Homo sapiens: one gene and its partners. The protein of the gene in region 5 interacts with the protein of the main gene of each other region in a pairwise test. Each region holds a gene or a part of one and is shown on either strand. Other genes may lie near its edges.

What was found.
Region 1: the proteins of TEAD2 (region 5) and DACH1 come close enough for resonance energy transfer, tested with the Homo sapiens proteins (one large-scale study listed by BioGRID).
Region 2: the proteins of TEAD2 (region 5) and MAP2K3 come close enough for resonance energy transfer, tested with the Homo sapiens proteins (one large-scale study listed by BioGRID).
Region 3: the proteins of TEAD2 (region 5) and HGF come close enough for resonance energy transfer, tested with the Homo sapiens proteins (one large-scale study listed by BioGRID).
Region 4: the proteins of TEAD2 (region 5) and SAA2 interact in a two-hybrid assay, tested with the Homo sapiens proteins (one large-scale study listed by BioGRID and IntAct).
Region 6: the proteins of TEAD2 (region 5) and GLIS1 come close enough for resonance energy transfer, tested with the Homo sapiens proteins (one large-scale study listed by BioGRID).

What each region holds. Positions count from the first base shown.
Region 1 is NC_000013.11:71,437,466-71,440,835, forward strand, and holds the end of DACH1 (dachshund homolog 1), read right to left. Parts: intron 3,228-3,370; coding exon 3,190-3,227; 3' UTR 501-3,189; downstream 1-500. UniProt on the Homo sapiens protein: Transcription factor that is involved in regulation of organogenesis. Seems to be a regulator of SIX1, SIX6 and probably SIX5.
Region 2 is NC_000017.11:21,298,211-21,301,710, reverse strand, and holds part of MAP2K3 (dual specificity mitogen-activated protein kinase kinase 3), read right to left. Parts: intron 3,299-3,500; coding exon 3,232-3,298; intron 2,834-3,231; coding exon 2,785-2,833; intron 1,167-2,784; coding exon 1,053-1,166; intron 838-1,052; coding exon 718-837; intron 1-717. UniProt on the Homo sapiens protein: Dual specificity kinase. Is activated by cytokines and environmental stress in vivo. Catalyzes the concomitant phosphorylation of a threonine and a tyrosine residue in the MAP kinase p38.
Region 3 is NC_000007.14:81,704,048-81,707,547, reverse strand, and holds part of HGF (hepatocyte growth factor isoform 1 preproprotein), read left to right. Parts: intron 1-183; coding exon 184-258; intron 259-1,120; coding exon 1,121-1,261; intron 1,262-1,794; coding exon 1,795-1,901; intron 1,902-2,012; coding exon 2,013-2,158; intron 2,159-3,500. UniProt on the Homo sapiens protein: Potent mitogen for mature parenchymal hepatocyte cells, seems to be a hepatotrophic factor, and acts as a growth factor for a broad spectrum of tissues and cell types.
Region 4 is NC_000011.10:18,245,869-18,250,127, forward strand, and holds the start of SAA2 (serum amyloid A-2 protein isoform a preproprotein), read right to left. Parts: upstream 2,801-4,259; 5' UTR 2,735-2,800; intron 2,649-2,734; exon of another isoform or gene 2,588-2,648; intron 2,148-2,587; 5' UTR 2,144-2,147; coding exon 2,053-2,143; intron 181-2,052; coding exon 42-180; intron 1-41. Other genes in the region: SAA2-SAA4 protein precursor, read right to left, coding at 42-180, 2,053-2,143.
Region 5 is NC_000019.10:49,348,917-49,352,416, forward strand, and holds part of TEAD2 (transcriptional enhancer factor TEF-4), read right to left. Parts: intron 2,450-3,500; coding exon 2,385-2,449; intron 144-2,384; coding exon of another isoform or gene 41-143; intron 1-40. UniProt on the Homo sapiens protein: Transcription factor which plays a key role in the Hippo signaling pathway, a pathway involved in organ size control and tumor suppression by restricting proliferation and promoting apoptosis.
Region 6 is NC_000001.11:53,729,165-53,732,664, reverse strand, and holds part of GLIS1 (zinc finger protein GLIS1), read left to right. Parts: intron 1-3,500. UniProt on the Homo sapiens protein: Acts both as a repressor and an activator of transcription. Binds to the consensus sequence 5'-GACCACCCAC-3'. By controlling the expression of genes involved in cell differentiation inhibits the lineage commitment of multipotent cells.

The DNA of each region.
Region 1 (3,370 bases), on a different chromosome or scaffold from region 5:
TTCCAAAGATAGAGATCAAAAGCAAAACACTGAGTTAGAGTTACAAATCTCCACTCATAGATATGGGAATAATATATTTTGTTCCATCAACATGTCTACTTTGCATTATTCAGCACAAAGCTTTGTGAAATAAGAATCATGGGAATATAAGAATATAAAGAAAAAAGGTACAAATAACAGCTTCATAAACTGAGAAATGTACATAAATAAATCATGTATATGTGGGCAGTTTGCTTAGCTGGCAAGAAACAAAATATGGAAAATCTGCTTGTTAAACAATAACTACAGAGTGTGCTTTTATGATGTTTTTCACCACAGTAATTCATATTAGAGATAGAAGCAGTTGCATGTTAAATAAAATCATTGAGCATTGTTCCCCTTGCATTGCAAAGAGCTGACTTGTGTTGTTTTTAGATGCCTCCCATTAGAAAGTAAATATTCCTTCAATGCTATGCATTTCACAAAATTTAATAAAGATGAACTGTAAATAAAGTCACAGGGAGATTTCAGACAGTTTTATTAGGAGATTGTTGAAAAGGAAAAGAAAATTAAATACAATAACAGTAAACGTGGTTCTCACATTGAAACCAGGCTCAAATAACTAGGCTACCATAGAAAAATTTCCAATTCTTGCATTATGATGTAAAAACAGATTTTTGTACAGATTTTGTACAACAAAATTCGTAATAACCTTTTATCATTTTTAGAAAACTTTAAATATATAGATAAAAATAGACAATTTTCATAGGTCCTACATGAAGATGAGTATGTTCTGTTCCAAGGGCTTGCATAGAGCGCAAATGTGGTTATAATATAGAACAACTAGACATTAATATTTTTAGGATTACAAAAGCATGGAAACCATAAAATGGGCACATTTTACTTGTTTATGCCAAAACACAAATTTCCAAACCAACCTGTATAACTAAAACAGGGAAAAAATTAAGTTACAGACTTACAATAACATTTCATGAATTGTAATATTTACAACATGTTAGTAAGAGTCTCTCTTAACATACAGCTGATAGCTTTTTTCTTTAATCCTTGCTAAAATTTCCTTTTATTTCAAATCAAACACTAAAGCATTCTCAAAGGTCTTCAAATATGTATTTTAAAACTATTTAATCCACATAACAAACAGGTGACTCTATGCCAGGAGCAGAGCAATGGCTGATTCTACTACATATGTAAGTTGTAGGCTTTTTTAAAAATCTTTCAAAAAATGTATGATGCAAAAAGCTTGACACAAGTCCATTCAATTTTAAGTGTTGTAATCCTTTAAAGACTGCATATAGGGAAACAAACACATAGAACTAGGAAAAGAATCCCTTGTGCTCAAACAACAAAAGGTGGTTATGGAAGAACTATGCTTAGAAAACCAAGTTTCTACAAATCATTTACTAGCAATACTTTAAATAAAAATAATGCTCCCTTTGTAAGCAAGCTAAAATAGGAACTGTACATATAACCTTTTTATGGTATTAAAAAGATGAACTTAGCTGGCTAATAGTGAGCTACACAAAAGAATTATGTTCCAGTATTGCAAGGAAGACCTAAAAGGTATAGAAGCGTAATGCCAGAGTATCTATAATGTTAATTTTTTCTTAATCAAGTAATTAATACCCAATCAGAACTATATTTAAACATTTTAAGCTAGTTTTCTTAGACATTGAAGATTTTGCTGTTTTGTGGTAATAAATAATGTTACGATCATACAATTTTAAGATGACAGAAAAATCATAAAATGTATAGTGACCGTACTGATTCATATCAGTCTTTAAAGGTGTAATTCCAGATATGCAAAAAACAAAGAGAAGGTAACTTTAGCATGTAATAAGCACTGTTTGCCGCTTTACTTCCAGTTATCTGCACGAAAGTGAAAACACATACTGTAACTTTCAAAAAGACAGTGAAAATAACACATAGCCACCCTTCCCTCTGACAAGGGTGGGAAGCACAGCACATTTTAACTTTATCACTCAGCGCTACATGGTATTGGACTGGTACATCAAGGTTTGTTAGGTTTTGTTTTCAGCAACATTAACATAATATGACGTTAACATATAAAAATATTTCTGGTGTTTTGATTTGCTGTTCAGCCACAATCCATTCCCAATAGTGCAGCTTGGGGCACTAGCTAGGGTTCAATATACAAATAAAAGTGGCTGACACAGAGTTCTGATGTCACCAGATGCTTAAGATCTCATTCATTAATACTGTGACTCCAGACAAATATTTACATGCCTGCATGCGTTAAAACCAGAAAGACATCTTTCTGACCAACAGGGTGACAAAACATATTTTCTAAAATTTTCATTTTCCTAAACTCTAGTATACTACTGCATACATAATACCTTCCTTGTGTGTTTTATGTTTATATACTGTACATATGACCAACAGTTTGAATAAGAAGCAACATTATTATCTTTAATTCTACATACCACTACCAGTTTGGAATGAAAACATGTTACACTTATATATTTTTTTTTATTTTTAAGAAAAAAAAACCTTCAGTGAAAGCTTTTGGCTTATATTCAATGCTTCTTTTCAGATATGCAAAATGTTATTTCATTGGGTTGTTGTCAACATCCATTTGTTGGTCTTTTGGAAAGTATGTGAAAAAAAATTCTTCAGGAGAAAACCCACAATTAGAGAGTTTGAAATTGAATGTAACAGAAAATCACTCTTGCATTTTTTTTTTTCAAGAATCCTCTATGCCCCCTACAAGTTCATTCGTTCATTCCAAGTGTTCTTGCTGGTTTCTGGAGGACATAATTCTGTAAGTCTGGGTAACCACTGCTACAAGAGTCTCTTGATGTGCTCAGATACAGAATTTTCAGAAGAGGAAAATGGTTCATTCCATTAGAAAAAAACAAAGCTAGGTCTTATTCAGACCTGCCTTTAACTCTGTATACAATTGTCCAGCAGCAAGTTGCAGTAATTAACTGTAAGAACTTTGATACTTGTACATTTACAAACATTCTCAGGTCTCTGGTATGAACCACAGGTGAAAATCAATGGAGAAAACTTTTTTTTTTTTTGTAGAATACTTAAACTTTTAAAGAACATTAATACACAAAATTCAGGAAGTTCCCTTAAAAGGACTTTATTTTTTTCTGAACTTTCCCATGACGAATGTCTGACTGCAAAGTTCTTTTCTATAACATGGATTTCTTCAACAGGAAAGATTCAGTACATGACAGTAGTTTTCAAATACAGTCTTCCATCTAGAAATGAACAGTGAAAAATTAATTAATGGCATGGTATTTGGGGTACAAATGTGCATGTAAAAATGATGTAACTTGATATAAAATTTGTAGTTTTTATTAGATCTTTACTTGGTTAAGAAGTAACATTTTTCATATCTTCT
Region 2 (3,500 bases), on a different chromosome or scaffold from region 5:
ACCCTCCTGACAGGAAGGTTGGGAGATGCGCAGGGGGCACCCGCAGGCTGCAGGGGCCCCATCGGCTAGGGGCTGGCACAGAGGATGCTGAGCTCTTCATGAGTGACGAGTGAGGACAGGTGAAGCAGCCCTGACCTTGCCCGATGGCTGGACTCAGATGCCCTGACCCTGCCACAGCTCTTTGAGGGGCAAGTGACCAGTATGAGCCCAGCATCGCCTAGGCTCCCGGCCTCCCTGCTCACCCACACCCACCCGGCTTGGCGGAAGGCAGCTCCACTCTTCCAGCCTCAGTCACTCTCTCAGCACACACCCCATCCTGTCCACAAACCTAGAACCCAGAATCCAGATCTCATATCTCCATGGCCGTTGCCTGCTTGGGCACCCCACGCCCCATATGCCATTCCCACGCCCTGTATGCCATGGGGATGCGAATGGTCACACAGACAGAACTGAGTGCAGCTGAATGCCAGGCCCCAGGCCATGTCGTTTACCTTCCGTGTCAACTTTAGGAGGCACCCACAACCACCGGCCTCATTTGACTGACAAGGAAACTGAGGCACTGAGCAGGACAGTAACAGCCAAGAGACGGGGGAGCCTCCTGCCAGTATGCCAGGTGTCCCCAGCACCTGGCGTACTGGAGGGACTGAGTGACAGTGGGTTGCAGGCGACTGATGGGTGGGAGGTGGAGATCCCCAGCTGCATCATGCAAGGACGCACCTCTCTGAATAGTGCCCCGTAGAAGGTGACAGTGTAGAAACAGTCGACCGTGCGCATGTTGATGTCCAGGTCCATGAGCAGCCGCTTCTGCTCCTGTGAGTTCACGGTGGCCCGGATCCGCTGCAGGGAAGGACTGCCATTCAGAGGTTGCCGTGGCAGAGGCCAACACCCACACTCATGACAGGAGGGCCAGGAGCTCAGGGGGCCACTGCCCAGTGTGCCCCAAAAAGCCTAGCCTCGGTACTGATCACTGAGAGGGATAGGCAGGGCCCCATGGCAGAGCTCAGCCCGCCTCCTCCAGGGAGCCCTCCCAGCTGCCTCCAGGCCCTGCTCACCTTCACGGCCATGATGGTGCCGCTCTGGGCGTGCCGCACCTTCTCTACCACCCCATAGGCTCCACGGCCCAGTTCTGAGATGGTCACCAAGTCATCAGCCTCCACCTCAAAGTTCTTGAAGGATGGAAAAGAGAGTCAGTGGCCAGCAAGCTGGAAGCCAGTCCTCACCCCATGCCCAGTGGAGATACCTGGGCAGCATGAAGAGGACCAGCTGATTAGATCTGGGCTCAAACCTCATATCCACCGCTCCCTGCTGTGTGACCCTCAGCAAGTCACTTAACCTCTCTGAGCCTCACGATGCCCTCTATAAAACAGGCACAGTGCCAACACCCCAAGGCTGCTATGGAGTGTGACTGAGACAAAATGCCCCGCCAGCAGGTACAGCTCTGAGAAAGAGGTGCCCTGTCCCTCTTTTCCCGACCCCACTCAGCTGGCTAGAATGAGTCACTCATTCAGAAACTGTTTACCAAGCATCCACAATGTGTTTTAGGCACTGGGGACACAGTGACAACAAAACAAAAGTATTGCCTTCACAGATGTTTCCCTCTCTTGGGAGGGACACAAAAAGGAGTAAGCAAGTAGATGAACAGGACAGCAGATGGTGAGTGTCAGGGAGTGCGACAGCCTGGAGGGAGTATCGTCAAGGACAGGCCTAGGGAATGGGGTTTATTTTTTTTAGACAGAGTGTCACTCTCGTCACCCAGGCTGGAATGCAATGGGGTAATCTTGGCTCACTGCAACCTCCACCTCCTGGGTTCAAGCGATTCTCCTGTCTCAGCCTCCTGAATAGCTGGGATTATAGGCGCCTGCCACCACACCGGGCTAATTTTTGTATTTTAGTAGAGACAGGGTTTCACCACGTTAGCTAGGCTGGTCTTGAACTCCTGACCTCAGGTGATCTACCCGCCTCAGCCTCCCAAAGTGCTGGGCTTACAGGCGTGAGCCACCGTGCCCAGCTCTTTTTTTTTTTTTTTTTTGAAACGGGGTCTCACTCCGTCACCCAAGCTGGAGGGCAGTGGTACGATCATGGCTCACTGCAACATCCACCTCCTGGGTTCAAGCAATCCTCCTACCTCATACTCTCAAGTAGCTGGGGCCACAGGCACGCACCACCACGCTGACTAATTTTCTGTATTTTTGTACAGACAGGGTTTCGCCATGTTGCCCAGGCCTGGTCCCGAGCTCCGAGGCTCAAGTGATCCTCCTGCCACGGCCTCCCAAAGTGTGGGGATTACAGGTGTGAGCCACTGCACCTGGCCTGGGAGTAGGGTTTCTGTTGGGAGGAACGGGGCATAGCACGGTCCCTGAGCCAGGATTCTGAATGGCTAGTGCCCTTCCGAGGCTTCTGGAAGCATAAAATGCAGGTTGCCCAGGTGCTGGCCTGAGGGAGTGATCCAGCGGGTCCAGGGCGGCCTAGGAGCCTGCATGTTCAATACTCTCCCCTAGGGCTAGGATGAGGTGCAGGGCCTTGCTCTCAGCTCAGAAACCTTCCTACCAGCTCTGGGCTCGCCAAGCTCCAGTCAGGCAGCCGATGGTCCTCATTCCCACCAGGAGGGTCAAAGAGTGGGTGGCCCAGGGCCACACAGCCAGCAGCGCAGGACGAGGCTCTTCTCCAGAGCCTGACCCTCTCTGACCCCTCAGTCACCTCCCCCCAAAGTGGCCCTGCAGGGTCAGCTCTACCCGCTCGTCAGGTGAAGTGAGAGGCCCTGCAGGGGTGGCGGCTGGCACCTACTCTGTCTCCAATGGTGATGAAGGTCCGGGAGTCCAGGTTCCGGGGGGGTCTGTGGAGAAAGAAGACTCCGTGAGCTTCAGAGAGAACCACACCCTTCCCCAAGTGCAGCAGTAGATGGGCCAGTGTGGGGCCTGGCGTGGGGACGAGGTGCCTCCTGCCCCGGAGGCGCCTTCTCCGGCCACCTCCTCTCACTGGCTGCTGAGCATCTACACTGAGCTGGGCACGGCCTCATCGAGCCTCCAAGACAGGGTGAGAAGTGAGCAGAGCAGAGCAAATGGTGCTGCATGAACCCCCAGCAGCCGTCACCTGGCTGTATGCACAGCAGGGGCTGCCCAGGACAGGACGAGGTAAAGCAGGGCTGGCCCCACCTGCCTCTCACTCCTTCCATTGAGCCCTGTTCGGGAAGCCTCTCCAGGGTGAGCCAGGGAGAAACTGAGGCAGACTCACGTGGGGTTGGGTGCGGGTGGCTTGGACATGCAGGATATCCGTAGATCCTTCTTCCTCTTGGATTTTCCTAGAATGGAGAGAAGGTGAGGCGTCTGGCCTATCCCTTGACATCAATGTCCCCTGCACTCCCATGAGCCATCAGGCCCTGGCCCACAAGGGTGCCAGCCTCTGCCATCACCCATGCCGGGAGCCCCCTCTCTCCAAGCCAGGCCGTTAGGCCTTCAAAGGGGGAAGGAGGCCCACCAGCCCTGCAGGGGAGCAGAGCAGGA
Region 3 (3,500 bases), on a different chromosome or scaffold from region 5:
CTACAATCACCAAATATCACCCTTCAGATAAAAGAACTTCTCATTTTATTCCAGTTGGGTTAATTTCTATATTTTCCTCTGCAGTGTATTTATTTTTAACAAATGGAGCCACAGGCTTTGCATTAATTGGCAGTCACTCTTTCTGCACAGATGTTACTTGTTTCTCTTTCCTCTTTTTCACAGAAATAAACATATCTGCGGAGGATCATTGATAAAGGAGAGTTGGGTTCTTACTGCACGACAGTGTTTCCCTTCTCGGTAAAGTGTTTTTAAAACTAGTATTATTTTGAGCCTTTAAAATGTGTATGTCTTCCACTTTGCTCTTAAGGTTATAATATGTATTCATTTTACAGAGATTCACAAATGGGGTGAACAAATTATTTCATTTTTAGAATTTGGCTTACAAAACTTACTTTGACTTCACAGATATTTACAAGACACTACTTCAGTTCACCTCTTTTCACAATTAGTGTTACCCTCAGTTGGGGAAAATTTTGCTAGAATTATGTAAATGTTTTATATCCCAACTTTCTACTTGTACCCTGTATTTCTAGATATAATTCTTTTTTTTTTCTAAATTGTCAATAGGCTTTTTTCAGTCCTCACTACTTCTTTCTCCTGTAGAGTCAGCCTCAGGATCATCCTGGGCATAATTTTCAATGAAAATTAGCCTAAGGAAAAGATAAAGAGGCAGCATTTGTAAACTTCCTTCCTGCTTCTCAGCAAGGTCACTTTGATTTTGTTTGTAGAAAACTTCAACCCCTGTTACCAAACCAAATATATACACAGCTGACATAAACAAAGCAAAATTTGCAGAAAAAATTATAATTCATGTAAAGTGCTTTACCTGAGCATTTTTCACAAGTGACTTCTAGCAAGCATAAGCAAGTTTCTAAAATAGTCATTTAGAATCTCAGCAATTTAAAGCCTCTTTCTGCTTATGTATGTTTGTAGTATTCAGAATCTGCCATAACAAATGTGTTGTTCTTTATTATACTATGAATCAAATTTTAAATTTAGGTTATGTGCCTTAATAGTCTAAAATAACAATAGATAGGAATAATACTACAGAATTTGGAATTATTATGTTTTACATTTAAATTTTTTTCCTTCAAAACAGAGACTTGAAAGATTATGAAGCTTGGCTTGGAATTCATGATGTCCACGGAAGAGGAGATGAGAAATGCAAACAGGTTCTCAATGTTTCCCAGCTGGTATATGGCCCTGAAGGATCAGATCTGGTTTTAATGAAGCTTGCCAGGTTAGTTACTTTAGAAGATTTTGTATTTTTCACCTGGACAAGAATTGTTGGAGCATTTTCTTCAGCTGTGTGGCAGTTCGTTCTCTCTCATACAGATGCATTATAAACATATGTTACATGCTGTATATATATGTATATATGCGTGCGTTTGGGTCTCTCTGTGAGTATAGAGAGAAAGGTATTTGCAAAACTGTAAAAAAATGAATAACTAACATTGGGCCAACAGTCTGATCAGTCTGTTTTAAAATGGAAACTCAGCAGTTATTTGATAACTTTCAAATGTAAAATAATTATTTTAAAAAATAGCATTGACCATTTATTCTTAAATATTGGCAAATACATGACTCATTTCTTTACTACCTATTCCAAATGTCATCATTACATTTGGACATTCCCACCTTTTTTTTTTTTTTTTTAAGAAACAGGACTTCATTCTCTGTAAATGCCATATTAAACATGAACACTACATTTAATATGTTAATTTTGTGTTGAATCCAGTTGAGAGTACTTACCATTGTATTTTGTGTTTTCAGGCCTGCTGTCCTGGATGATTTTGTTAGTACGATTGATTTACCTAATTATGGATGCACAATTCCTGAAAAGACCAGTTGCAGTGTTTATGGCTGGGGCTACACTGGATGTAAGCTAGTTTTCAAAAGATGAGGCCATATTTATTTTATTTTAAAAAGAACACATTTGTCTTTGTTTCTTACTTTTCTCACCTTATTGTATGTTTTTTGCATCAATCTAGTGATCAACTATGATGGCCTATTACGAGTGGCACATCTCTATATAATGGGAAATGAGAAATGCAGCCAGCATCATCGAGGGAAGGTGACTCTGAATGAGTCTGAAATATGTGCTGGGGCTGAAAAGATTGGATCAGGACCATGTGAGGTAAAAAGGAAGTTCTTTAATAAGGAGTATGTGATTCATAGCTTAGTGTTTCATGTTTATTTTTTTCTGTTTATTTTTCTCAAATCAAAAATATTGTATACCAACCTATTCTAGGAAAGAGGAATTGGGAAAATTAACTCTGTAATATTCTGCATTTCTTTCAACTAAGCAGTGAGATAATCAATGTTTTATTAGCAGCAAACTATGATGACATTTGTCACTCAAAAAATAATAAGTGTGTAGAGCCGGAACTCCAAGGGAGAGCTATTCAAATGAGAAGTATCCAAATCAGTTAGATCAATGGTTTGCATTTTTCTAATGTTTTTCTAAATTTATTTTATCTTCCCAAATTATCTCGAAGTGAACTCCACTAATTATATCATTCAGAGATGCCTGGCTTTAAACTTTTAAATCTCTTTTTGGGTAAGCTGTTCCCTCTTTTGCTCTCTCGCTCTGTGTATGTGTTTAAACAGATTCTATTTTAAAAAGCCTAAAGGTCAAAGTTTGTGACTTTACGAGCTTGGACATTTCATTTGTGAGGCAACTGTTATTTCGGCTTGGCAATGTTCCTATCCCTATTTTACATAGACAAGCTGTTAAACTGTTAGTTTAGTTAGATTTTGAATGTGAGAGACATGTTCTCCAAGCTTCAGGGCTGTGGGATTGTGGAATGCTGTGTGTGGCAAAAGATGAAATGAGTTCAATGATAGTGAAATGTCCTTTGATATGTAGGAAAATGCATGCTGTAAGTATGGAACATAAATATGTATTGAAATGCAAGTGTTATACACCTTGCTCTGAGATTTTATTTCTGAAAAGAAGAGAAAATGTTTACTGTTTACTGAGTTTTTAGAACTGCTTAAAAATGATATGGTTAGAAACAGATTATATGTTTATAACCAGTTTCAAATTTGTTGCCTTTCTAGTAAATCATGAACAATGAAACCATTGTTCATTATAACAAGGGAACATTTACTAGGAGAAATAAATGACTATACTTTAAAAAGAAAAAGCAATAAGCATCCGGGAAACACAGAAGTTTCTAACTAGACCCAACCTTACAGATCATCTAATTATTGTCATTACCAAAACCAATTTGACAACTGCTTTTGAAGAATAGCCTTTAATTTGGATTATCACCTATATATTTTTCACTTCCCTCTTCAGTTTGAATTATTCATATCTGTATACTATATATGTTGTTTTTAACTTTATTGATAAGACTTGACCTCAAGTAGATTCCGCCACTTCTCAAAAATGTATTTATCCTCCAGAATGTTTTTAAAAATATATATGTCACTGACATTTAAATCAAGGTAATTTAGCCACTGAAATAAATTTG
Region 4 (4,259 bases), on a different chromosome or scaffold from region 5:
CTCTGCTCACCCAGCCCTAACGTCCCAGGAGCTCCAGTTACCTGATCACTTCTGCAGCCCAGGCACCCCCAGGTCCCCTTTTGGCAGCATCATAGTTCCCCCGAGCATGGAAGTATTTGTCTGAGCCGATGTAATTGGCTTCTCTCATGTCAGAGTAGGCTCTCCACATGTCCCGAGCCCCTGGAAAGGAAAGGAAAGGCAGAAGGGACATCAGGAGAACATAAAGACTCCAACAACACCTTAGAGGGGAATGAAAGAAGGACAAATCTTCCACTGACTTCAAGCTTTCAGCCTGTGATCATAGCAGCCTTGGATACCATGGGTTGAGAAGCACATTCCTTTATCCTAGTTGGCTTCTTCAAGTGCCCTGGTGAAGAGCCACTGCTATAGAATGAAGCTGCCTATGATAAGATCCAGGAGTGTATATGAATGAGGTGGTGACATGGAATACTGATGCTGAGAAAGGTGGCAGACACAGAGTACTTCTGCCCTGACTACTAAAGTATATATTCTTGCAAATGGAATACATGTCATTGTGACCTGAGTTCCAGTGACTGTTAGGAGCATAAAAGTCCCTAAACACTTTCTCAGTAGGCTGTACTGATACTGTGGGTTGCTTGAGGAAGCAATAGAGCAGCGGTTCTCCGCCGTGGTTGCACTTTCTTTTTCTTTTTTATTTTTTTAGACGGAGTCTCACTCTGTCACCCAGGCTGGAGCACACTGGAGCAATGTAACTCACTACAACTTCCGCTTCCCGGGTTCAAGTGATTTTCCTGCTTCAGCCTCCTGAGTAGCTGGGATTACAGGTGCCTGCCACCACGCCTGGCTACATTTTCATATTTTTAGTAGACACAGGGTTTCACCATGTTGGCCAGGCTGCTCCGGAACTCATGACCTCAAGTGATTCATCCACCTTGGCCTCCCAAAGTGCTGGAATTACAGGCGTGAGCCTTGGCTGCACTTTCTAATCACCCAGAGAGAAACTGAAAGTCCCAGTGCCCAGGCCACACCCCAGGCCAGTTTCTGCAGACTCTGCTGGGGAGTTGAAGGCATGGGTAGTTCAGGTGATGCCAAGGTGTGTCTGAGATTCATAACCATCAACCTCTGGGAGGTGGTCAGTGATGCGTCTACCTGGCAAGAGCCCTGACCTCAAGCACAGCCGGGCTCAAACCTCTGCCCTGCCACCTGCTGACTGGCAGTAAGTCCCTGGGCATTGGCCTCAGCTGCTCTAAGTCTCAGCTTTCTCACCTTCACAGAAGGGATGCCTGCCTCACAGAGTCATTCTGAAACTAGATGAGAAAATGCTGTGGTCCTTGTGGGGGCTTGAGGCACGTTAGTTCCCAGCTCTTGTCAAGAAGGCTGGAGAAGGAAGAATGGAAACAGAACAAACCAGGAAGGGAGCCCCTGACAGAGCGAGGCTAAAGAGCCCTGTACATTATCCAACTAGGAAATCGAAGGAGGAAGGAGAAAGAAGACAGAAGAGTCAACAGCCTTAGTCATACTCCTATGCGATTTATGCTGAGGGACATTTTATACCAATTGCAGGCCTTATTTTGCATCTTCTACTCAAAACAAACAGCTCAGGTGCTCCTGGAAAGGATGATTGTTCTTTCTCTGAGTAACTGACAACAATCCTCGACTCTCTAATCTGTTTAGCAGCTCCCCAGGCACATTGGGCAGCACAACCTAAGGCAGCGGCTCAAATCTTAAGGAAGCCCAAAAATACCCCGTGTGCGTTGTTACTGGATGCCCCGTCCCTTACGGCTCAGGAGATGTGTTTTTGATACACCTTGCAGCGGCTTCTGAAATGTGATCCATCCACTTAACACATCCTGAGAAGCTGCACTACGGGGAAAGGGGATATTCCCAGCAGCTCTGAAAGACTCGAGACAGGCAACCCAGCAAACCCTAGTTCCTGGCAGGCCTCAGCAACGCAGACACTAGCAACTCTGTGGTTCAAAAGCAGCCTTCCGAAAGCATCATTTTCCCCAGTTTATCAGGTCCAGGGCGATGTTTCTCTTCAGAAATCCTGCAAACCTTCTGAAGCCTTACCATCAAAAGCCTCGCCAAGGAACGAAAAGAAGCTTCGGCTGCTGACACTCAGGACCAAGGAGCAGAAAACCAGGCCCGTGAGAAGCTTCATGGTGCTGAAATGAAAGGAGAAGTCAGGCAGTCGCCCACAAGACTGGCACAGCTTCCCTTGGGACTTATATTCCGACGAGAGCCTGGTTATTTCCACTGGATCTTATTAGAGTCTCAGTGGCTCATCTAGGAAACCTTGCAGCAGGACCTCACTCAGAGCCAGAAGCCCTCGGTTCTGAACCCATCAGCCCTGAAGCCTGACTGCATAAGAGGATGCCAATGTGGCACTGATGGAGGAAGGCAGGAGTTACCACCAGACTGTCACTCCCTCAAGTAGCCTATAATTCCCCATAACGCATTTACCGTGTGTTCCCTCTGCCCCGCACAGAACTCAACATGGGATAAACACAAAGCAGGATCATTATTTTTTATTCTTAAAGCCTTTAGCACCTGGTATTCCCAGGTGTTCTCCCATCCAAGTACTACCAGGCCCGACCCTGCTTACCTCTCTAGATCAGAGGAGATAAGACACCTTCAGAATGGTATGGCTGTATGCCCCAGGATAACTATTTTTTTTAAAGGAAATGATAATCTTGTTGGGAAAGAGAAAACAGAGTAAGTTTTAAAAATCACTCCTTGGTGTGCTCCTCACCTGATCTGTGCTGTAGCTGAGCTGCGGGTCCCTGTCTGCCAGGGAGAGGTGGCTGCTATTTATAGTGAGCCTTGCTGGTCTCTTGGGAGGGAAGAAAAGCTGGATGTGGTCCCTGGGGAAAGTCCCTGCAGGTCATTTCCCCTACAAACTGGTCTAAGACAAGTTCCTGGATGCCGGTGGTTTCTTCATCCCGGGTCATTTATCCCAGTTGTGTAACCTATGGGAACAAGAGAGGTTTGCTGTGCCTTGGCAATGGACAGGGTGCTAGATCAGCTCTGCTCCTCAGCATTGGGGGAAGTGCAGCTGCAGAGATGCCAGTGGGAGCCCCGTGATGGCGGCACCTGGGCTGCTGGAAGGTGTGGAGTGAGGGCAGCTCTTCAGCCAGCTCCTGACTATACCGGTCATTTCCTCAGGATGGGCCCTGCTGGGCCACATGGCAGATGACCCTGACTGAAATCCCTGTGAGTTCATGTCTAAAGCTTTAAGCTTTAAAACGGACAGCCTACCCCTGCCACATCTCATGTGTGCCCTGGAAGCCTCCTTCCACCCCTCTGGATGTCCTGATATTTCTCAGCACAGAAAATCTCTGCTCCGCTGGCTTAGCCAATTTGGAAATGCTTTTTCTAAGTTGGCTCCTGAGCCAAGGACAATGTAGAGAGGGGGACTTTCTGCTGCCCCAGCCTAGTCCTGGAGCCCCACCTTGGGAGAATGAGAGTGTGGTGCGTTAAATAGGCAGCCCAGCTGGGGACGTGCCCAGCATCCAGGCAGGGAAGGGTGGGAGAGCTCTTGGTCTGCTGTATTATCACGGAGGGGTGCAGGGGGCATGCAGATCACTCTCTCATGAGAACATCAACAGGGTCAGATTAGCTCTGCAGAGGCTTATGGAGGAGCATGGTGGCCAGAGATGGGTCAGTACCAGAGCCCAGGGGGGCTGAGGCCAGGACATGCAGAGAGGCTGGTGGACATAGCAGCAACTCTGGTTTCTTCTTCTCCAGTCCATGTTCATACCCTGAGGGCTAGGCATTTGTAATAACAAACAAACAAGCAATTTAGAAATGGGCCAGGCATGGTGGCATGTGCCTATAGTCCCAGCTACTTGGGAGGCCAAGGCAGGAGGCCTGCTTGAACCCAGAAATTTGAGGCCAGCCTGGGCAACACAGCAAGATTATCTTAAAAAATTTTTTTTAATCTCTGAGAAATGGGTAGGGCCAGGAAGTAAAGGATGGCCAAATACTCCATAAGCAGCAAATGCGTGGCTCCAATGTGAACAATGATATTATAGACTCTGTTCTGAGACCTATGCATTGACACCTCCACCTCCCCCACTACATCTTGCCACCTTAAAACCACTGAGAGTGGTACCTGCTGGAATGGGTCCACACACACAGTCACACATATTTTAGGCAGGGTAGTTGACATCCCCAGGGAAAAAGAGCTCACAGAGAGAGGCTGAATGTTTCCAACTGGGTAGCAGTAATAGTACATCATGCTGTACATGGTACAGCACAGATCAGGTGAAAATAAT
Region 5 (3,500 bases):
GCCTGCCTCCACTTAGAAGCTGAAAAAGCTAAATACTCACTTTCCCAGCCTCCCTTGCAGTTAGAAGTGGCCATGTGACACAGTCCTAGCCAATGAGACGTTAGGGGAAATCTGCTGGGGGGCTTCTGGGAAGGAGTTTCTTCCTGAATGAAAAAGACAGAACTTTGGGAGGAGAAAGCTTTTGGCCCTGGCCAAGTCCTGCTTGGGAGATTGATATGGTTTGGATATTTGTCCCCTCCAAATCTCATGTTGAAATGTGATCCCCAGCTGGGCACGGTGGCTCACACCTGTAATCCCAGCACTTTGGGAGGCCAACGCAGGTGGATCACAAGGTCAGGAGATTGAGACCGTCCTGGCTAACATGGTGAAACCCTGTCTCTACTAAAAATACAAAATATTAGCTGGGCATGGTGGCACGTGCCTGTAATCCCAGCTACTTAGGAGGCTGAGGCAGGAGAATGGCTTGAACCCAGGAGGCGGGGGTTGCAGTGAGCCGAGATTGCGCCACTGCACTCCAGACTGGGGGACAGAGCGAGACTCTGTCTCAAAAAAAAAAAAAAAAGTGTGATCCCCAAGGTTGGAGGTGGGGCCTGATGGGAAGTGCTTGGGTCATGGGGGTGGATCCCTCATGAATGTCTTGGTGCCTTCCCCATAGTAACAAGTGAATTCTCACTCTTTGAGTTGATGTGAGCTGGCTGTTTAAAGGAGCCTGGCTTCGCTCTCTTGCTCCCTCTCACCATGTGACATAGTGGCTCCCCTTCCCCTTCCACCATGGTCCTAAGCTTCCTGAGGCCCTCACCAGAAGCATAGGCTGGCAACATGCTTCCTGTACAGCCTGCAGAACTGTGAACCAAATAAACCTCTTTTCTTTATAAATCACCCAGTTTCAGGCATTCCTTTACAGCAATGCAAATGGACCAACACAGACATGATCCCTGGAGTTGCAACAGCCATCTTGGGACAATAAGACAGACATGAGAGGAACTACAGAGATTCCAGTCCTGATATTGCTAAGCCCACACGGGAACAGCCCACCTCCAGGCTTTTTGTTGCATGGATTCATAACATGAATGCTTTTACTATTTAAGGCACTTTTAATGTGGGTCTTCTGTTACTTGCAGCCAAAAGTATTCCTAATTGATAAATCTATGGAAACTAAGGGACTCCCTCTTTCACTGATGTGAGTTCTCAGGGCCATATCAGCATGGACTTCCAGAAGCCATCTTTGCTGCCAAGTAGCTGAGTCTGCCTGGGAATGAAGCCACCACAGTGGAAAGCAGATCAAAGTAATGACTGATGCCATCACTTGAGCCGCTGGATCCAGCCACGCCTGAGGCCATAATTCTGAACTGTCAGTTACTGGAACCAATAAATCAATACATTTTTCTTATTATTTTTTATTTTATTTATTTATTTATTTTGAGACAGAGTCTTGCTCTGTCGCCCAGTCTGGAGTGCAACGGTGCCACCTCGGCTCACTGCAACCTCTGCCTCCCAGGTTCAAGTGATTCTCCTGCCTCAGCCTCCCGAGTAGCTGGGATTACAGGCAAGTGCTACTGCTACCACGCCTGGCTAATTTTTGTATTTTTTAGTAGAGGTTGGGGGGGGTGGTTTCGCCATGTTGGCCAGGTTGGTCTCGAACTCCTGACCTCAGGTGATCCACCCGCCTAGGCCTCCCAAAGTGCTGGGATTACAGCTGTGAGCCACCGCACCTGCCTCTTCTTTTTTAAAATGTTGCTTCAGCTGGCTTGATTTGGATTTCTATCACTTGCAGCTGAAAGAATCTTGACTAACATACCTCCCCCATGTCTCATAAGCTAGCAAGTGGCAGAACACAAACCCAGTGTGTGGCTGCAAAGACCAAAATCTCCTAACCATCACCAGTTCCACCACTCAGCTCTCCAGCCCCTCCCGGCTCCCCCGCCCCCAACACACACACCCTGCCTCAAAGCTGGGCTTCAGTAAGAATGTATCCCCTAATTGGCCGGGTGCGGTGGCTCACACCTGTAATCCCAGCACTTTGGAAAGCCGAGGCAGGCGGATCACAATATCAAAAGATCGAGACCATCCTGGTCAACATGGTGAAACCCGATCTCTACTAAAAATACAAAAATTAGCCCGGCATGGTGGCGGGCACCTGTAATCCCAGCCACTCGGGAGGCTGAGGCAGGAGAATCACTTGAACCCAGGAGGCGGAGGTTGCAGTGAGCCGAGATCACGCCACTGCACTCCAGCCTGGCGACAGAGGGAGACTCCATCTCAAAACAAAACAAAATAAAACAAAAAAAACAATGTATCCCTCAATTGATGGAAGGTTGAAGGAAAGGCAGTAGGGGTCGAAGAGAGAGAGGGGAGACAAGGGAGGGTGGAGCGCAGGCTCTTACCTGGGAGGTCAGTAGATGGGGGAGTCAGTGACAAGGTGAACGGTGTCTGTGAGAATGGCTTCACACTGAGGGAAAAAGGAAGCCAGGGGTTAGCCAGGTAGAAAGATGCTAATGTCACCAGCAAATGTTTACTGAGAGGCCACAACAAGCAAGACCCTGTGCATTTTGTGCACAATCTCACTGAAGCCTCACAGTGCGTGAGGTAGGTAGAATGACTGCTCTTTTCATTGCACAAATGAGGACAACTGAGGTATAGAGGGGTCAACTGACCTGCCCAAAGTCACACAGTTGAGATGCAGCAGAGCTGGGACTTGAACCCAGGTCAGTCTCAGCCCGGTATCTCAGGCTCTTGATGATGACATTTTGGTATCTCTCACAAAATGTCAGAAAGAGAAGAGAAACCAGCCTGGCGTGGTGGCTCACACCTGTAATCCCAGCACTTCAGGAGGTTGAGGCGGGCAGATCACTTGAGGTCAGGAGTTCGAGACCAGCCTGGCCAACATGGTGAAATCCCATCTCTACTAAAAATACAAAAATTAGCAGAGTGTGGTGGTGCGCGCCTGTAATCCGAGCTATTCAGGGGGCTGGGCCAGGAGAACTGCTTGAACCCGGGAGGCAGATGTTGCAGTGAGCCGAGATTACGCCATTATACTCCTGGGTGACAGAGCAAGACTCCATTTCAAAAAAAAAATAAAAAGAAAGAGGAGAGAAGAGAAACCAAGTCTTGGAAGGCAGGGAGAAGACGCAGAAGACAAGGAATTTGGAGGAAGAAGAGGCTGAGGGGTTGGGAGGGTGGGAAGAAAATGACCAACACTCAGGAGATGGGACAGGAGGCCAAAGTCGGGGTGGGGAGGCAGCACTGGCCAATAGAACTTTCCAGGGATGGAAATGTTCTATTGGATGGAAATCTGTGCCATCCAATACGGTACCCAGTGCCCACATGTGGCTACTGACCACAGACCACGTGGCCACTGAGCACAAGTGTGGCTCATGGACCTGAGAAACAGAATCTTTAATTTTATTTAATTTTAATTTAAATAGCTGCATGAGGCTAGTGGCTACAGTATCAGTCACAGCCCTAGTAGCCCAAGAGATAGTGGTGAAGAGACTTAGATG
Region 6 (3,500 bases), on a different chromosome or scaffold from region 5:
GGGCTTTGAAAACTTGGACTGCATTATGCAAAAAGCACAGCTGTAATACCAGGGCCAGGAAAAAAGACCAAACTCCTGAAATATTTGTGCTGCTCGCCTTCACTGTGCTAATGATTCTAGCAGTTTAAAAACGGACTTCTTGTTTATCAGCAGCCACTGCCCAAATTAATAGTTTACAATGAAAAAAAAAAAAAAGCTTTCAGCATTGGAAGCAAAGTCCAGGGACTGACAGCTGAGTTACTGAGTAAGGAAAGCAGAAAAGAGGGGGAAAAGTAGTTTTGTGGCTACTTTGGTCTCCCAAAGCCATATTTATAAGAAACTGAAAGAAAGCCGAAGGCTGGGCTGGGTAGGGGTGGAGAGAATACAACCCTAACCCAGTGGTCTCAGAGTTGAAAGTCACTTAAAGCATGTTTTCTTCTTTTGCCCTTTTTCCCCCTTAAACTCCAAAGGATTATTCCTTCAGTAGGTTTCCGGTGGATCGAGGCGGATCGTGTTAGCATTACGAGCTGTGTTTTTAAAGTTAGCATTTGAGTCAGATGCGCTGAGAAGAGACCTTTAGTCTGTTAACTGAATAACGCATTTCCTGGATGGCCTGAATTTATTTGGTGGTTATGGTTGGGCCTGCCTGGAGCTAACACATGAGCCATTGTGTAGCATCTTTGCAAGTGGGCCGTGCCCTGTGCTTTGAGCCTTGGTTTTCCCATCTGTAAAATGGAGAGCAGTTCAGTTGGATGATCCATAGTCCCTGCCTGCTGATACTCCAGGATTCCACACTGACTGGGCTGGGAAGGTTTGGAAGGATCTGGGGTGTAGGAAGAGGCCACTTTTGTCTCAGACCAGGTTATACACTGGAACTCTTGACTGCTAAAGATGAACACAGAAAGAATGGGGAAGAGGGAGGTCAACTAACCTTTAGTGAGCGGCTGTTCTGTGCCAGGTGAGATGCTTTAGAGACGTGATCACATTTAATTATGCCCAGCAGCCCTAGGAAGAAAGGAGGCACTGTTCTAATTTTAAAGATGGGGGGACTGAGGCTTGGAAAGGCAAAGTGATTTGTCCAAGGTTGTGCATGTAGTAAGCAACAGAGCCTGGAATTTGAACCCAGGTCTGTCTGACAGCAGAGCCAGTACTTTCCTCTGAAAATACACCACTCTCCAGGACCAGCTTCTTAAACCCAGGCGGCTGGGAAGGAGAGGATGCGGCTCTAGAGAGCTGCGCGCCCCCAAGGAAGCCCAAAGGAAGGCAGCAGGAGGCTGCAGGGGGCCCAGACAGCCACATCCCAGAGCACCCCTTTCTCAGTCTCAGCCAACAGGCTGAGGTGCGACTTACAGGGGATACTCTGCCTCCGTAGGGCACTGCTCCTCTCCCCCTGCAGAACTAGGGAAAGGAGAATGTTCCCAGTGACTCAGGATCCTCAGGAATCTGGGGTCTGGAAAAAGACTCTCTGAGGCCATGGAGGGGGCCCCTAGGAGGGACCGCTTCTCAGAAGCAGTGGCAACTCCCGTCCTGACTGGTTATTGCAGGTAGTAGTCCCTGTCTGAGTCTTTCTTGCCATATGGGGAGATTCCTTGCCAAGGCCCCGGTCGTAGTCTCCCCTCTATGGCTTTCAAAGACATCTGTTGGACGAGAATTCCTCAAGATCCCCACCATGCCTGGTTATAGAATACGTGCTTCCCCAAGCATGTTGGCTCAGGGATCTATTAAACAATTATTTCTTGTTAAACACTTGGTGGGATGAAGTAGGGCTTGGGAGGGAGAACAGGCTGGGGATCAGAGTGAACTTGAGAGTTTGCTTGTGAGAAATGGGTCTTTTGTGTCAAATGATGAATGAGCTAGATGACCCCCCCTATGGAAGGTAAAGGTCCCACGGCTGGTTGCATCTGTGGCCTTGCACGTGCATTCATGAGAATGTGTACATTCTCAGGGAGTCATACTGATTCTGAAGATGGACTTGCAGGAGCCGTTCTGGTCCGAGGTGTTTTTGCCTTCCTACGTGCCGCTGTGTCTGAAGGGGAGTGAATGAAGTACAAGGGATGGCCCTGCCTGCCGTACAGCCCAGCCTGTTCCTATTTGTGTCTTTTTAGCAACCAGATTACTCTTTTAGATGTTACCTTTGTTTTTAAATAACAGGTTTGCTAGAAATCAGGCTTTAGCAAGAAACCAGGGAGTACTATAAACCTGACTTGAAAAATACAGATCCCATTTGCTGTTTTAAGCTCTCCGGAGGACTGGAGATTGGGTTTATTTTGGAACGCTGCTGGACTATATGAATTACTTCTCAGAGGGTTGGGTATTTAATACCTAGTAGAAGTTTGTGTAAGAGTTGATGATGTATTTTGCCAACTTTCCAACCCTGTAAATAAATTACACGTGCCGGCAGAGGTTGCCAGGATCCACTGTGTCAGTTGGAGCTTAATTTTTATCCTAAACCACCGAATACTTTTGTCCTAGCAAGCAGAGAAAGTTACGGAGTTTTTTGCTTGTCACTGGGCCCATCCCAAGACGACGGTTTAAAGAGCCTGAGAATAGGCCTCCGCGGAGTCACTGATTTTGACACCGTTTTCGGTGGTTAAGTAGCTTCAGCAGTCTCAAGTCCAACCCTCAAGGCAGAGAATGATAATATAATTTTAAGCATATCGTAAAAATGAAACTCAATCACTTCCACTCCCCAAACCTGTCTCACTCCCCATCTCTCTGGAGAAAACGGCTGTAATTGTGTGTTTAATCTCAAGACTGCCTTTGCATTTTATCTTATTTGAGTGCAAAGCCCAGGTAATATCGTGGCATTTCCAGCGCGAAACAAAATAGGGTTTCTAATTTGGAGACACTATTAAATATTTCATGCTTCAACCAAACTCAATTCTTTTTTCCTATAATAAGTTTAAATATTAATTCTCTGGAATGTCAGATGCCTAAAGCAAAGCATTTAGTGATCTGCAGTTTCAAGTATCTCGAAGAAGGTTTATGAAACAGGATATTTCACTGGGAGGGATGAGTAGTGTGCTTCAGAGATATGTGAATTCAAGGCATCGTCTTCTGATTTATTTTTTAAAGGGAAAAGGTCATAAAATAAGTTGCTTTATGTGCTGATGGATTAAGTGGCTTAGGCTGAAATAACAGCAGGAACTTTACTATTTTTCCCTGTTTTAACAATGCTTTTTGGGGGAGGGGGGTGGGTCTTTTTCCCGCCTGCTTGTCTCCTCCCTCCGTACCCCCCGTCAACCCCAGCCAGATGGCTTTAATTCTAACCAAATCCCACGCTGAGGCCAAATGATTGATCAAACAGTCATTTGTACTTACGGAGCGCTCTTTGTGAGAATATCTCTGTGCTAGGGCTTCTCGTTGAGGCAGGCTCTTCTTTGGGCCTTCAAACGGATGATTTCAAACAGATCGAGCGGCTTGGTGAGGAGGGGTCCGCGGGTGGATGCGGAGCAAAAATCCCAGACCTCAAGTCCGTAGAACTTCTCGCTTAAAACCTCTGTGTTACTTCCCATCCCTGA